3 linked regions of the Homo sapiens genome follow. The gene in region 3 interacts genetically with the main gene of each other region. Each region holds a gene or a part of one and is shown on either strand. Other genes may lie near its edges.

The links.
Region 1: of ATG10 (region 3) and NOC4L, changing one suppresses a phenotype caused by changing the other (phenotypic suppression), as found in Homo sapiens cells (one large-scale study listed by BioGRID).
Region 2: of ATG10 (region 3) and VPS13D, changing one enhances a phenotype caused by changing the other (phenotypic enhancement), as found in Homo sapiens cells (one large-scale study listed by BioGRID).

Annotation. Positions count from the first base shown.
Region 1 is NC_000012.12:132,142,865-132,146,613, reverse strand, and holds the start of NOC4L (nucleolar complex protein 4 homolog), read right to left. Parts: upstream 2,158-3,749; 5' UTR 2,126-2,157; coding exon 2,009-2,125; intron 1,761-2,008; coding exon 1,640-1,760; intron 1,056-1,639; coding exon 949-1,055; intron 1-948. Other genes in the region: ATP-dependent RNA helicase DDX51, read left to right, coding at 2,318-2,621, 2,705-2,919, 3,736-3,749.
Region 2 is NC_000001.11:12,509,253-12,512,660, reverse strand, and holds the end of VPS13D (intermembrane lipid transfer protein VPS13D), read right to left. Parts: 3' UTR 614-3,408; downstream 1-613. UniProt on the Homo sapiens protein: Mediates the transfer of lipids between membranes at organelle contact sites. Functions in promoting mitochondrial clearance by mitochondrial autophagy (mitophagy), also possibly by positively regulating mitochondrial fission.
Region 3 is NC_000005.10:82,051,908-82,055,556, reverse strand, and holds part of ATG10 (ubiquitin-like-conjugating enzyme ATG10), read right to left. Parts: intron 326-3,649; exon of another isoform or gene 223-325; intron 1-222. UniProt on the Homo sapiens protein: E2-like enzyme involved in autophagy. Acts as an E2-like enzyme that catalyzes the conjugation of ATG12 to ATG5. ATG12 conjugation to ATG5 is required for autophagy. Likely serves as an ATG5-recognition molecule. Not involved in ATG12 conjugation to ATG3.

The sequences.
Region 1 (3,749 bases), on a different chromosome or scaffold from region 3:
GGCGAGGATGTGGAGTATGGAACTCTCAAATGCTGCCAGGGGGAGGGTAAGATAGCGCAGCTACTATGGAAAACAGTCTTGTAGTTCCTCAGAACATTAAAAACACAGCTGCTGTGTGGCCTTGTAATTCCACTGATAAGGCATATTCAAGCAAAAGAAACATCACACAAGAGTTTGTACGCGAACGTTCACAGTCCGCTGTTCGTAACAGCCAAAGGTGGAAACGACGCAAATGCCCAGCAACCTACGAGCGGCTGAACGATACGTGCTGTGCTATACGACGCGCTGCTACTCAGCCACAAAGAGAACGAACTTCGAACACGCCGATGAGTGGAAGAAGCCACATACCGTATGATCCCCCTTATGAGGAGCGTCTAAAAAAAGCAAACCCATTGATCCAGGAAGTAACCACTGATCCAGGAGTGGCTGCCTGGGGCTGGGGGTGGAAAGGGGCGGGATATGGAAGCGATGGTAACTGGTACAGGATTTCTTTTCGGGGCGATAAAGATGTTCTGGGATAGCGGCAACCACTGCACAACACAGTAACAGATGCTAACTTCTCAGCTTTAAACGGTAAACTGTGCCTCAGTTATTCCTCACTACAGATTTTAAGAAAGCTCATAATGCATTCCCATGGCTGCAGACCACAGTGTGATCTGAGCAAACACATCTGTGGACTGGCACGAGGCTTGGTGTGCGTGCTCTATGCAAACACAGAGATCCCCGTGGATGCCACTGGAAATGAACACGGATTCTGCGTCTTCAATATTCACTACAGGACTCGATAGCCATGTTTCTGAATGGGACTGAACACCCACAGGGTGATGCTCCCATGAAGGAAGCAGCTTTGCCTGGACAATTGTGGGAGCCCCAGACCTCTGCTTTGTGGATAACCTGGGAGTTGGGGTGCAGGGGATGGACAAGGATGAGGCCAGCCCAATGACCCACCTTGACCTGAAAGGAGGGGTGGCCCAGGAGCTCTCCCAAGCGATTGCAGCAGCTGTGATAGCGGTGTCTCATCCACACCTTGTACTTCCGTGTGGCTCCCTGGGACCCTGCAGACAGGTTAGGGTGGTCAGCCCACGTGAGGCCCACATACGCCACCCTGGGCCCAGCCCAAAATCTCAGGCCTGGCTCCACCCTCCCATTGTCTTCTACTCAGCCTCCGCAGGTGGAAACAGGTCGCTAAGGCCCCCAGACCTGTGCTGAGACCAGCACATTCCCTGAGCCCTGCAAACAGGAAGAGCACCTCCTACCCCAGGACTGCCCCAGCCAAGCTGCCAGGAGCAGGATCCACATCCCCTCTCTTTACTCCAAGACCTGACGTCCCCAGGATGGGGACATAAAGGAAGCTCCGAGTTTAAGCGACCGTGTCAGGATCAGTCAACATCAAATTACAAAAGGGGTGCAAAGCACACAAAAAGTCGTACCTTGTCCAGTGTTCATCTACACTCAGCTGCAGGGCACCCATGTCACCCCTGCCCCAACGCCACCATCCATCTTCCACGGTGGGCTTGGTGCGTCCTCCCACCAGCCTGCACGGCCTGTGCCAGGGTTGGGGGCGCTCATCCCATGGTGACAAAGCCTCCCTCCGACCCACGGAAAGAGAAGAGCAGCCCCGGGGCCCTCCAGGGCTCACCTGTCATGACCATCTCCTCAGAGGGCAGCTGGCCCACAAACAGCTCTCCCCGCTCCAGCAAGGCCCCGAAAAGACGGCTGCACGTGCGGACTGCTTCCTGGATCTCCTCCTGGTCCTCAGACTGCAGGAGAGGCGGCGGCAGGGTGCCCGGCCGCCAACTGTCACCTTCGCCCCTGCCTAGGCTGCCCCCAACCCGTTCCCTTCCCCCTCGGGACGCCAGCCCCGTCACCCCCGACCCGTGACCCACACGCCTCCCACCCTGACCCCCCAACGCCGTCTCGGAACCTCCTGGGGACCTGCCGCCGCAGCCCCCCATTCAAGTCCCGCTCCCGTGCCGCGACTCCGGCCCTGCGACGCCGCCAGGCCCACCTGCAGCACGGCCAGGATGTCGAACACGGCGTTGGCCTCACTGCGGCTCGCCAGCACCGCCTCCAGCCGGCGGCCCAGAGCCCGGCGAACTCCCGCGGCGCCCGGCTCCCGCTCCATGCCGCCCCCAACACGGAACAACGCGGATTCTCAGCCGCCGGCGCTCCCGTGACGTCACCACTGCGCGTAGAACCCGACGTCATCTCTACGCGCCGTACCCCAACCCCATCTTTTGCGCGGAGCCCGAGTCGCAGGCGTGCCGCCGACGTCATCGCAGCGCGCCACGCCCGAGTCCCAGGCGTGCGGCTGGCCATGGCGCTGTTCTACGTCGCGCGGTACCCGGGCCCCGATGCGGCAGCTGCGGCGGGGCCGGAGGGCGCGGAGGCCGGGGCGCACGGCAGGGCCCGCGCGCTGCTCGAGCGGCTGCAGAGCCGGGCCCGCGAACGGCAGCAGCAGCGGGAGCCCGCGCAGACCGAGGCGGCTGCATCGACCGAGCCGGCGACCAGGAGGCGACGGCGGCCCCGGCGGCGGCGGCGGGTGAACGACGCGGAGCCGGGGAGCCCGGAGGCGCCGCAGGGAAAGCGACGGAAGGCGGACGGCGAGGACGCGGGCGCAGGTGGGCCGCGGGGCGAGCGGGCTCCCTCTGGGGCGCCGGCGACTCGGTGCTGACGCGCTGCCGGGTGGGTGTCTGCCTCGCAGAAAGCAACGAGGAGGCGCCAGGGGAGCCCAGCGCAGGGAGCAGCGAGGAGGCGCCAGGGGAGCCCAGCGCAGGGAGCAGCGAGGAGGCGCCGGGGGAGCGCAGCACCAGCGCCAGCGCCGAGGCGGCCCCAGATGGACCGGCCCTGGAGGAGGCGGCCGGACCCCTGGTCCCCGGCCTGGTGCTGGGGGGGTTCGGGAAGAGGAAGGCGCCGAAGGTGAGCCTCGGCGGGCGGGAGGGTGGTCGGCGTGAGAGGGTAGGCTGCGCGGATTCTTAAGTGCGGCGGTCGCCCCGGAAGATTTCGTTCAGCGAATGTTCCCGGGTCACAGCCGCGCCTCGCTGCCAGGTCTGCAGTTTCATCGCCTAGGGGTCTGGATCCTGCACGTGCAGAGCTCCCGTTTCCTCTGCTAGGCTTGCCCCTGTCCTCCCGCCGCGCCGCGCCAGTTCTGCAAGATGTGTTTGCGTGAACGTGCGGGGTTTCCTGCTGTGCGCTCACCGCCTCAGGAGTAAGTCAGAGGCCGTTCTGCAAGCTCCTGACCGTTGGTGTTTTTGCTTAGCACGTGTGGTTTTCGGTAAAGAGATTTCCGGCGAGACAGGTGAAGAAAGCGAGAAGTTTGACAGAGTGCTCGGGCACCTTAGGTAGGGCAGGTGGAGGAGGTTCTCTTTGAGTTGGGATGCAAAGACTTGAAGCCAGGTCAAGGTTGGGGGTTGGGGGTGCCAGGCAGAGGCCTCGAGGCAGGGACGCCGGCGTGGCTGGGGCAGGCGAGCGCCAGGTCACAGGACCTCCTGGCTGCGGGAGGGTGGGTGCCACTGTGGGTTGATGGGAGGCTACAGAGTGAGTTTGCTCAGGGAGTGGCATCTGCTTTTACTGTTTAACTTCTGAAGGCTGTATGGAAAGCGCATCCTGGGGCTGAGAAGGAGCTGAAGACGACAGAGGTTTCCCCAGCCTCCCTCCCCTAGCTTTTTCCACCGTGGGCTTCTGCGCGAGAGCCTGGAAAGCGCTCACCTGGCCTCTCTTTCTTTTTGATGGCAGGTCCAGCCTTTCCT
Region 2 (3,408 bases), on a different chromosome or scaffold from region 3:
TGCAACCTCCGCCTCCCGGGTTCAAGTGATTCTCCTGCCTCAGCCTCCCAAGTAGCTGGGACTACAGGCGCCCACCACCATGCCCAGCTAATTTTTTGTAGTTTTAGTTATACACATAATTATATAACGTGGTGAAAATTTGGGCGACACACAAGGTTATTAATTTTGAGGTGGAGTGGATGGAATAGAGAGGGGCGATATAGTCGGGGTTAGAGATGAGGTTTCATCATGTTAGCCAGGATGGTCTCAATCTCCTGACCTTGTGATCCGCCTGCCTCAGCCTCCCAAAGTGCTGGGATTACAGGCATGAGTCACCATGCCCGGCCTCCTTTGCTGTTTCTTCTTCAGCTGCCTAAACCCTAAGTGTGACGTCTGTCCTGCTGGGGCTTGGACCAGGAACCTCAGAATGGACTGATCAGCAGCCAGTGTAGCGCGGAGACTACTACTTACTCTTGGGAGGCTGAGACTGGTTAAGGTGTGGGGGTGCTTCCCCAGGCCTGGGGGCAGAGGCCACATTTTATTGTGAACATCACACTATGTTTGGTATTTGTCACTGGTGATAGCTCTAGAAGCTGTGGATCACCAAGAGACCAGAAGAAAACAAAAGAACAAGTTTGGGAAGTCCACAAGGCATTTTATTCCACAGGAAGAAAAATGATGACTCTGATATGAGAACCAGACTCAAGAGTCTTCACACACTGGTGACTGTAATAGTGTTTACATAATAGAGAACCAGATATTTTTAGAATTTTATCAAGCAGCTACTATGGTATTTTGAGGCCCAGATCATACTTACAAACAAAGTGGCCCTGGAGCCTTCAGAACATTGCGATGAGCACCCACCAAGCAGCAAGACACTCTTGGGATTTGGGGAAGGGGCCGCTTGTCTGTTTTCCACTGTGTAGTGACCAGGCCCAGGGGCTGGGGAAGCACTGGCCTGGCTCACCCTTCAGTGAGCACAGAGAAGCAGCGACAGCCAGGGAGTGACACGGGTCGGCCAACTGTGCTGGGTCAAGGGACTGGGTAGCTTTGGATATCTCCTTACCCAATTTACTCTTATTCCATTTATTTTACTTTCCTCAGAGACGAACTGTGTGTTTGAAGCAGAAAGAAAAGCAGTAGAAATGATCTTAACAAAGTCTTAGGCATTGCTGGCTGAATATCAGTTTACAAAGAGACGGGGCATTTAAGGAGCCAGGGGCAGGGCCTGTTTCCTCCAAAGCTTTGGATGTTTTCCTGGTGAGAACCAGGAGGGGATGTCAAATGCCCCTGAAACCTTCTGGCCTTGTCTGGCCCAGGGCTGCAGGGCAGGGGAGAGCTGAGAAGTGGAGCAGCTCGCAGTTGGCCCTCCCATCTCCCACCCAGCCCCGCCCTAGGTGGTCTTTGGATTCCATTTTAACATCTGCCTCTCCTAAGGTGCAAATGTCAAAGTGCTTGGTTGTGCAATCACAGGAGATGGGCAGCTATTTAAAGAGCTGATTAAAATTAGAAAGGAGCCCAAGGGGGGCATCTGAACACTTCTCTGGATTCCTCCTGAAGCACCAGCCCACAGGGCAGCCCGCAGCTAACTTCCTCAGTCAGGTCTGAGAACACCCAGCACTGCTGCGGCCCAAAGCAGATTTTCTTAGTAACACTAAACTCCTTAATCTCATCAAGAGATTTCAAGTGACTTTGTTCCAGAAGGTGATAGAAGGCTCACTGACGCATACAATCAACCCTTCCGAGAGTCTCATCTTTTAAGAGATCATGATCTCAGGCAGTAGGTTACTGATGACAAAAACCACAAGCCAAACCTGTGGGGGTGCAAGGAGGGAGGCTGAGGAGGAAGCTGCAGAGGAGCTGCCATCTTGTGCAGTGCTGTATCCTGCTGCCATCTTGTGCAGTGCGTGAGTGCTGAGACAATCATCACCACCCCCCAGCAAGACACACACAAACTAAAACTCACCCAGTGCCGCAAAAGCCAAGTTTCCATTCTGCAATCCACTAACTTGGAGTTCAGCAAAGGCAACCAAGCCTCGGAGTTCAAGAAAGCTGATCCTTGAACACTATGTAGCTACTTGTGCTAAAGCTCCCTTCCTTCCTCTCTGCATGCACGCGCGCGCGCGCACACACACACACACACACACACACACACAGACACAGACACAGAGGGGAAGTGGGAGAGGAAAGGGAGGGGAAGAAGATTAGCTTCATTTGTGTCTTGGAAGGATTTGGGTCATGAGTTATAAACACCAAAACCTTCCACGCATCCACTGATCCACTGAGTCATCCCAGACTCAGCTACATGTGACAAGGTTGTAGAAATTGATTAGCTTTATTAAAATAAAAATTTAAAAATCACAAGGTGACTCATTCATTCTAAAGTGAGGCCCCTTTTCCCTTCTCCCTATCTGCTTAATCCTTACAGAAAAGCGAAACACCAAAAACAAGACCCAGGGCGCTCATACCAGGCCTTGCTCCCAGCAGGAATTTAAAACCAAGGATAAGAGATGCCTTTGTCAAATCTTGGTTCCATGAAAAACTTACCAACGCAGCTTTTTAATACTCCTATTTCATCCCCCTTTCTGGAACTCTCCCTGCTCCCTTCTCATCCTGGGGTTTCCATCCTGTGTCCCCTCGGGCTGTGGAGCTACGATGCCTGCCTGTGGCTTTATTAAAAAGAAAACAGTCCCGGGGCTTTGTTCTTGGTTGTTGCTGCCCAGGCAGGAGAGCACTTTTATGTGGATTTCTGATTTGTTGCAACAGTTCAATGGGACTTTTTTTTTCCTTCTCAATCAACAGAGTTTACCAATGTTTCCAACCTCTCTAATAATAATAACCTGAGAAAACTTACAATGCTGACTTGCACCCATGTGGTAATGGAGCACAGGTTTCCCCCTAAGTTTGGTAAGACTAGTTAGGAAAAAGCCAAATGGATAACTTACATCATAATTTGTAAGAATCTAAGCACTCTTTGTAAAATGGGGGTGAGAAATTAAAAGTGGGCTCCCAAGCCCCTCTCCTAGATCCTTCTGAAGGGCCAGCGCCAGTCCTGGGTGCCACAGCTCACAGCCCAACTGGACAGCCACGATGTCAAAGGCGTCCCTTTCAGGACCACAGCCCTCACCTCAACCCACTTTACTGGGAATACTTTAGTCTCCAAAACTAAGACGTAACATTCTTTAACTTTTAAGAATGCCTTTCTATAGACAGTATCCTGAATTAGACATCTAGAATTAGTGCAATAGAAGATCCAATATAACTTTATATTACTTTACAGTTAACAAACCTTTACACATAGCACAGACCCTGTTCAGAAACGTTCCTATATATTTACAAACACACTGTTGTACATATATACATGTTAACAAAATACAGGGCAATCTAAAAATTAGATTCATCTCAGTACATGTTTTTAAACGTTATTTA
Region 3 (3,649 bases):
GAGCCCTGGTCACATAACCTCCTCTTAAGGGAACATAAAATTTAGTAAAATTCTAATAACAATGCAAAATACATCTCCTTTGACATTAAAAGAGGTGAGTCAAAAATTCGTGTGCACCTATGTTATAAAATCTAAATAAATTATCTGGTCTCTTTCCCAATTAGTTAAGATAAAGAGATATGTCACTTTCAATAATACTTATAATTTGAGGAATTTACTTACATTTTAGGTAATTTCTAATACCATTTTTTTATTATCGATACGGAAGTACGCTGGGTTTTTTGCTCTATATTTGGTAGTGGTGATTTTTTTTCAGTATCAATCTTCTCAGTCAAGATTAGCCTTGAAAAATTAAATATAGAGTTTTTTGGATTTTGATTTCCCTTTAAAGACTTCCACAGAACTAGATGTTTCTTCTACTTTGTTTTAATTTAAGGCAGAAAAATATGTTTTGTGCTTCACTGTTGAAGGATGCTTTTTTAGAGACAAGCAAACTCAAAAGCAGGAGAACCACCACTCTTGTCAGCCCTGCAGTCCACCCAGCCCAGGAAAAAACGATGTCAACTCAAATTCCCCCTTGGCAATGAAGTTTTCCTGACCATTCCAATTAACACTCCTCTCTAGCTTCCCTGCATTCTTTTTGTACTTATCATAGCTTACACTTGAACATTTAACTCTTCTTTAATTTTTTAACATTTGTTAGTTTTATTTCTCCCACTAGATCATAAGCTCAGGGCCTAGGCCTCCATCCTCTAAGGGATGACAAGGTCTTTACAGGATCCAGATTCCATCCCACATAACAACCTGATCCAGAAAGAGTCTGAAAACATCCTGGACAAGCATGAGAGGATTTAAAAACAAAGGGAACCTTCAAGTTTATCCAATTCAAGCCTCTCATTTTAGAGATAAGAGGGTGAAGGACTAAAGCACTTCTAAGAAACTTGTCTTACACTAATTAGTTGGAGGCAGAGCAGGAAGTGGAAAGCGGATCTCTTGACCTGAGTATTCTTTGTAGTACACTAAGCAAATTCTGCAAGAGAGCAGGACCATGGCTTATTGACTCTCGTGGACTGGTGTGGGCCAGTGCTTTGCACTTCAAGTAACAAACTCAAGCCACTCAAGTGTGGTCTGGGGACCAGCCACAGCATAAGCTGCGAGCTCATTAAGACAGACAGGCAGAATCTCAAGCCTCACCCCAGACCTCCTGATTCTGCATTTAAAACATAATCCCCAGGTGATATGTATGCACATTTTGGAAGCACTGAGGCATGTACTGCAATCCCTGACTCAAAGAGACAGCAAACTGACTACATTAACAATGGTTCTCAATCCAAGCTGCACATTAGAACCACCTGTGGAGTTTTCAAACTGTTGCTGGTGTCTCACCTCAGACCAATTAAGTCAGAATCTACCTAGCAGATTCCAGCACAGCAGCCAGAGTTGAGAACCACTGCACTCAATTCCTTGGAGACCCTCTTTTGAACTCAATGAACAGAGTCAATCAGGTAATCTGCAGCTACCTCAGGAGAGAAGTCCACAAACAACTCAAGATCTTCATGAACACCATAGCTCATCTGGAGTTCTCCAAATGCTAAAATCACCTCTGTTAATGCTCTCTTCTTGGAGCTTTGACCATGCTGAGACTGCCTTTGAAGTGGTCTTTACTACTGCCCGAAAAACTAATTTCTGGCAACTTGGCCAGTCTTGACCTGGCCCTCTGAAACTGCCAGTAGTCTTGTAACTTAAAATTGCTCCAAGTCCAACTACACTTCAGCTATTAGGTCTCCTTGCTGTCCATTCACCACAAAGCATGATGCTTCACTCTGTCACTGTAGAAGAATAATTAATAAGAAATGTCCAGCTGTTATAACCCAAACAACTTTCATTATAAAGAGAATACTTCCTCACAGCCAAAACTCTTCCAGTTATCTAAATAGAATGCCCTTCACCTAAGACCAAAATAAGAAATATTTAAATGAGAAAAAAACCCCAAATATGCTAGATGAAAATATAGGAGAACACATATTTTTTAATATGATAAAAACCCAGAAGTCATAAAAGACTGGTAAATTCTACGGCATGCAACGAATTCTTAACACCATAAAGTCAAAAGACATATCAAAATGTGAAAAAGCATTTGTAGCTCATATCATAGAAAAGAACTAATTTTTTCAATATAAAATAGCTTTAATTTCCTCAAAATATAAATAGTTCCACCAAATCAACAGGAAGGGGTCCAATAGCCCAATAAGAAAATGAGCAAAGGATACACAGATAGTTTACTAAAGAGGAAATACATGTAGATAAAAATATGTTCAATGTTAGCCATAAGAAAAATGCAAATTAAAAACTGTGATAACATTTTTTACCTATCAGATTGGCAAAGATCAAAAAGTATGAAAGGGAATGTATAGACAAAGACATGGATAAAACAAGCAGGCACTCTCATACATTGCTGGGGCAGGGGAGTTAAAATTAGCATAAGATCCCTGAAGAGCAGGTTGGCAAAAACTATCAAAATTTAAAATGCACACACCTTGGATCCAGAAATGTTACTTCTAATAATTTACCTTATGGATATAGTCACATATGTAGTAAATAAAATTCATACAAATGATTATTAACATATTATTTTAATAGTATAAGGTTGGAAACAACCTAAATTTCCATCAGTGAAGATTGGCTAAATAAATTATTTTATGTCCAAATAATGGGATAGTATGTAACCACAAAAATAATGAATGAGTTCTGTAAATATTGAGTAATGACCAAGGCTGACCATTAAGTTATTTTTTAAAGCGCAGAACAGTATGAATATATGCATGCTACCATATGTTTAAATGTAACTGTACAGGCTATGTGTACACTGAATATATCCGGAAAGATACCCAAGACCATGGTATCACTGGCAACCTCTAAAGGTTTGAGTAAGGAAAGTAGAAGGGTTAGAAAGGAGACTTAACTTTTTAATGTAAAACCTCTTTTGTGCCTATAAATACATGGCACTTCATTTTAAACAAATAATTAATTGCCCTTTGCACATATGCCTCCAGGCCACCACATTGCCAGAGTAGATTCCAATCTTAAACTTCTAAGGAGAAAATGTCCTATAGGTCTTATAGAATCCAAGAGAGACAAGCAAGTTTTCTAGTGTAGTGCCGATTGCATTTTGGATGGAGATCTAAGGATTTCCTGATAGAACACGTTTGGGTCTGTTTTAGTACAAGCTGTCATAGGGCTATGCCACCCAGCAAGCTATGTTATGCCTGCTGGAATCCAGCTAACAAAATAATTATAGGGCTTTTGTTGCTGAGTTTAACAAGATCTTCTCTAGACACATCTAAAAGAAAATGGGTGGTTATCTAAGGGTCTAAGCTCTACTTCAGAATAAGGCATTTTATATACGACTTCAACTCAAGTTAACTGCCCAGAATGATCAACTGCAGGAAGGGCTTGACAAGTCCATAAAGGAGGAAGACAACTGAAGTTTCTAGGTCAATGCCAGCACTGATCAAACAAGGCCTTCAAGGTCAGTGGAGCCCTGAGGAATAGGTCAAACCTAGGCCACAGATCTCAAGTGACTGTTCTTTGCTGCTGTAGAAGATCAAACCAATACTATCAGTAGCTGTTCAAAACTGATTAACCTTGG